Regions from separate parts of the Homo sapiens genome. Here region 2 is linked to region 1. A link means that fine-mapping ties the variant in region 1 to the expression of a gene that starts in the linked region. Tissue or cell type: whole blood. Region 1 holds a variant in brackets; the other region holds the start of a gene. All regions are shown on one strand. Distances are from middle to middle.

What was found. PIP is the estimated chance that this variant, and not a neighbour inherited with it, causes the effect.
Region 2: MMP17 starts here. The variant in region 1 is fine-mapped to the expression of MMP17 in whole blood (TOPMed, PIP above 0.99).

The regions. Positions count from the first base shown.
Region 1 is chr12:131,848,752-131,851,586 of GRCh38, forward strand. It overlaps MMP17 (matrix metallopeptidase 17), which reads left to right. Exons shown (of 10, transcript NM_016155.7): 9 at 1,051-1,308; 10 at 2,174-2,835. The coding sequence ends at 2,523. Among named protein-coding and RNA genes, the nearest start is that of MMP17, 22 kb to the left of the region's middle. RefSeq lists an enhancer at 2,696-2,835. The variant A/G (reference allele first, on the strand shown) is at 1,164.
Region 2 is chr12:131,827,003-131,829,669 of GRCh38, forward strand. It overlaps MMP17 (matrix metallopeptidase 17), which reads left to right and starts at 1,391. Exons shown (of 10, transcript NM_016155.7): 1 at 1,391-1,651. The coding sequence starts at 1,493. RefSeq lists a silencer at 1,256-1,385.

The DNA of each region.
Region 1 (2,835 bases):
GATTTCCTTCCTGGCTGAGGCTGAGCGGCATTCCATGGCACGGACGGACTGCACCTCGTTCGCCTGCTCACTTGGGTTTCCTCTACTCTGGGCTCCTGTGAAGGACGCTGCTATGAGCGTGAGTGTGCAAACGTCTCTCCAAGACCCTGCTTTCGGTTCTTTTGGATTTATACCCAGAAGCGGGAATGCTGGATCACGTGGTAATTCTATTTTTGACGTTTTGGGGAGCCTATGTTCTGTCTCCCGCAGCGGCTGCACAATTTCATACTCCCTCCCCGGCAGCGCCCGGCTCTGCCGTCCCCATATCCTCCCGACACAGGTGACTTTCCACGTTCTTGACAGTGGGGGCGAGGGGGCGTCTCATTGTGGTTTTGAGGGCGTTTCTAGTGACGTTGACCATCTTCAAGTGCTCAATGCCATCTATATTTCTTGGGAGAAAAGTGTATTTAACGCAGGGCACGGTGGCTCACACCTGTAATCCCAGCACTTTGGGAGGCCAGGGCGGGCAAATCACCTGAGGTCAGGAGTTCGAGACCAGCCTGGCCAACATGGTGAAACCCCGTCTCTACTAAAAATACAAAAATTAGCTGGGTGTGGTGGTGGGCGCCTGTAATCCCAGCTACGCGGGAGGCTGAGGCATGAGAATCGCTTGAACCCAGGGGCGGAGGTTGCAGTGAACCGAGATCAAGTCACTGCACTCCAGCCTGGGTGACACAGCAAGACTCCGTCTCAAAAAATAATGATCATAATAATAATAGGATGGCATGTCGTGGGCCTCGGTTTGGCCCGAGTTGTTGTTTCCATCGGTAAAGGGGTGGCCGGCAGCGTCCACAGGCTGGATGGGATGGCCCGGACTGGGCACAGTAGGTGCTCACTAAGTATCCATGTGGCCCCTGTGATGTGGGGTGATTGCAGTGTGGCCGCTGTCCCATCAAGCCCAGGTGAGGGGCCAGGGCAAGGGCGGCTGACACAGGAGAAGGAAAGGCAGGAGCCTCCTGCCCTTCGGGGTGGGGCCGAGCCCCGGCCCACAGCTGTTTCTCTCGCCCCCAGGAGACAGGTACTGGGTGTTCAAGGACAATAACGTAGAGGAAGGATACCCGCGCCCCGTCTCCGACTTCAGCCTCCCGCCTGGCGGCATCGACGCTGCCTTCTCCTGGGCCCAC[A/G]ATGACAGGACTTATTTCTTTAAGGACCAGCTGTACTGGCGCTACGATGACCACACGAGGCACATGGACCCCGGCTACCCCGCCCAGAGCCCCCTGTGGAGGGGTGTCCCCAGCACGCTGGACGACGCCATGCGCTGGTCCGACGGTGAGTGCCAGCTGGGGGGACGGGCCATGCGGCCTTGGTTTCCCCACCAGGAGAGGGGCATCACTACAGGGCAGCCAAGAGGTTCCCTGAAAGGAGGACGGCCCCGGTCGGTGTGGGCTCTGAGGGTCCCAGCCCCTCGCCTGGAGCTGCCGACCCTGCAGGCGTCCCCGAGTCGCTCCCCGAAGGCCTGGCCCACGAGCTGCCCTTGTTCTCCCCGCCCTCAGCACTCCCTCGCCCCTGCTGCTCCCCCAGCCACGCTCCTGCCCCAGGGCCTTGGCACTGGCCATGCCTCGTCTGGGCACACTTTCCTGAGATGTCCACACAGCCCCTCCCTCGCCGGCCCCAGCCCTGCCAAACGCCCTCCTGGGCATCACCCCTGCCACGTCCCACAGTGTAGAAGAAACCTCCCCACAGGGTCAGCTCCAGGGACGGCAGCATCCTCTGTTTTGTTTTCAACGCTGCATCCTTGTCACCTGGAACAGCCCTGCACAGAGTGGGCCCTCAATAAATATCCAGTAAGGGAAAGAGACTCTGAGGGTCTCCTGGTCCATCCCCTGCCCCAGCAGGCTCCTCTGGAGCTTCCCAGGCCTGTGACCATGCCTGCAGAGCTGCCCACAGCTGAGCAGATGCTGACCCCATCTCAGATATTATCTGGGCACCCCCTGCCATCTAGCACGAGCCGCCCCCCACCAGCCGTCTGGTCTGACCCCCCACTGCAGTCTTGTGCAAGCCCCCTGCTGTCTGGCCCGACTCGAGCCCCTTCCGCTGCAGCCCTCCCTGAGCCCAACGCTCCCTCCTCGCTGTCCGGCTCGAGCCCCTCCTGCTGCAGCCCTCCCCTGAGCTCAGCTCTCCCTCCTCTTCTCAGGTGCCTCCTACTTCTTCCGTGGCCAGGAGTACTGGAAAGTGCTGGATGGCGAGCTGGAGGTGGCACCCGGGTACCCACAGTCCACGGCCCGGGACTGGCTGGTGTGTGGAGACTCACAGGCCGATGGATCTGTGGCTGCGGGCGTGGACGCGGCAGAGGGGCCCCGCGCCCCTCCAGGACAACATGACCAGAGCCGCTCGGAGGACGGTTACGAGGTCTGCTCATGCACCTCTGGGGCATCCTCTCCCCCGGGGGCCCCAGGCCCACTGGTGGCTGCCACCATGCTGCTGCTGCTGCCGCCACTGTCACCAGGCGCCCTGTGGACAGCGGCCCAGGCCCTGACGCTATGACACACAGCGCGAGCCCATGAGAGGACAGAGGCGGTGGGACAGCCTGGCCACAGAGGGCAAGGACTGTGCCGGAGTCCCTGGGGGAGGTGCTGGCGCGGGATGAGGACGGGCCACCCTGGCACCGGAAGGCCAGCAGAGGGCACTGTCCGCCAGGGCTGGGCAGGCTCAGGTGGCAAGGACGGAGCTGTCCCCTAGTGAGGGACTGTGTTGACTGACGAGCCGAGGGGTGGCCGCTCCAGAAGGGTGCCCAGTCAGGCCGCACCGCCGCCAGCCTCCTCCGGCCCTGGAGGGAGCATCTCGGGCTGGGGGCCC
Region 2 (2,667 bases), 22 kb before region 1:
ACCCCGTCTCTACTAAAAATACAAAAATTAGCTGGGCACGGTTGTGCACGCTTGAAATCCCATCTACTCAGGAGGCTGAGACAGGAGAATCATTTGAATTTAGGAAGCAGAAATTACAGTGAGCCAAGATCGTGCCACTGCACTCCAGCCTGGGCAACAGAGCAAAAAAAAAAAAAAGAAAGAAAGAAAAAACAATCCGGGATGTCCTGTGAAAGTCCCCACCTCCTACAGGTGATCCCATCAGTCCGAACCAAGGTCATCTGAAGCAGGTGTGGAATCACCCTGTTCAGACCGGGCCAGGGAGGCTCTGAGGGCAGCAGGGACAGGATGGGCCAGAGTACCCAGGGAAGCGGGGGGGGGGGGGGGGGGGTGGTTGGGGGGAGTCGGCCCTCACAGGAGGGGAGGGGCACCACTTCCCTGAGACCAGTTCTGGTAAAAGGGGCCGAGCCTCAGTTTCCCTGTCCGTAGAATGAGACCTCAGTCCTGACAGTACCAGCTGCGATTTGGGGTGGTGGAGCAGGAGGGCCTGGGAAGGAGGGGAAGCCATGCTGTCCAGCACGAGGAGAAGCTGAATAAAGGCAAGGGTTACCCTTGAACCTCACCCCCTGCCCTCTCCCAAGATCTCCCACTCGGTGGGCAGCCTGTACGCAACTTGCACGAGTTCAATCCACACAAGCGCCTGCTCGGGCTCTGACCCTGGCTCTGCCGCTTGCCCGCTCCAGGACCTCCCATAAGTTACTTCATTTCTTTGGGCCTCAGTTTCTTTGTCTGCGAAATGGAAATCATAGTTTTCATCTCATAAATGTTGTAAGTAAATGAAATTATTTATGTAACTCCTGGGCATGTGCCAGGCACACGCTGCGCTCCAACAAACATTACAAGTTAACATTCTCGCTCCCAGGCCCGCAGGGACCGCAGAGCCTCCGCCGAGGACCCCAGCCCCCCCAACACCCGCCCTCGCCCTCCAGTCCCCCGCGCCCCCCAAGCCCCACCCTCCCTCTCCCGCGGTCCGCGGGCTCCACCAAGCGCCCACCTGCTGCGCTGCGGCGGCGGCTCCGGGGCCTGAACCCGGGTCTGAACCCGGGCCTCGGCGCCGTGGGGGGTGGACCCGGGAGCGCGGCCGGAGAGGGGAGTCAGGGTCAGCTCCCCGCAGGCGCCCCGACCCCCGCCTCCGCGCCCATCCCGCGCGTCCCCGCCGCCCCAAGAGCGTCCTAAGACACCCGGGGAAACGCCTTCCCTGTGATGCCGCGGACCCAGTCCCGTCGCGGACACGGCGGGGCGGGCGGGGGTGGCAGCGTCCGAGGCGGCGCGGGCCCTTTAAGGCGGCCGGCCTCGTTAGCATACATTTGCATGGCCCCGCCCCGCCGCTTGAGGCTGCCGCGCGGGGCTCAGTCCGGCGGGGGCGCCGCGGAGAGCGGAGGGCGCCGGGCTGCGGAACGCGAAGCGGAGGGCGCGGGACCCTGCACGCCGCCCGCGGGCCCATGTGAGCGCCATGCGGCGCCGCGCAGCCCGGGGACCCGGCCCGCCGCCCCCAGGGCCCGGACTCTCGCGGCTGCCGCTGCCGCTGCTGCTGCTGCTGGCGCTGGGGACCCGCGGGGGCTGCGCCGCGCCCGCACCCGCGCCGCGCGCCGAGGACCTCAGCCTGGGAGTGGTGAGCGCGCGGGCGGGACGGGCGCGGAGCTCCTGGGCCGGAGCCGGGGGTCTCCGCGGGCCGGGTGGCGGGGACCGGGAAGACCCCAGCAGTGCACGTCGGCGTCGCGCGGGAGCCCTGGCGCCCTGGACCCATTTCCTGGGTGGGGAGACTGAGGCAGGGACGCGGGCTGAGCGACCGGGCGAGCGCACGCGAGTCCTGGGGAGGCGCCGGCTGCCGTCCCGGCTCCGTGCGCTGGGAGCGCGCCGCAGCCGCAGGAGCCCGTGGAGTTGTGAGGGGGTCGCCCACCCGGAGCCCGGGTCGCCGGCTTGCAGCAGCCCCGGAGCAGCCGGGCTGGGCGAGAGCAGGCATCGCGGCCGCCCCGAGCTCTGCGCGCTGCGTGCGTTCCGGGTGGGAGTGGCGGGGGCAGGAGCACGCACCCACAAAGCGAGGAAGGGCAGGGGCTACGGAGTGGGGGCACCCCGAAAGCCTTGAGCCCCCGAGTTTGCTCGGTTGAGGGTGTTGGGGGCACAGGGATGCTGGCCCCCAGCTCCCCACTGGACAAGGACCTGGCCCTCAGCCTCCTTCCCCTCCACCCCAGGTCGGCCAGGCTGGCCCTGCCTTGCCCTGGTACAGTGCTGAGCCGGGGGCGCGGGGAGAGCCTTCCTCACTCCACACCCAGTAGCTGTCCCCAGCTCAGCTTAGAAACCCTGCCTGGGGGCAGCGACGTGGCCTCTTCCTACAGCCCCCTCCCCTGTTCCGCAGCCGGGACTCGCGTCTCCTGTGGACCCGGAAGATTTAGAGCACACGTCGTGGGGTCAGCGCCCCCCCGCTGGGGCGGCCGGGTGAACTCCCGCTGGGTTCGTTGGTTCCTTCTGAGGCTCCTGCCCCACCGCTGCCTTCAATGGACTCCTACCCAGGGAGTCGGGCCAGGAGCCGAGGCCTCCCCGCCCCACACAAGTACTCGGCCTGGCCCTCGTCCGCGGACAGTCTCCCAGTGGGGTCCTGGCAGGGCCCCTCGCCCAGCGCAGTGGACA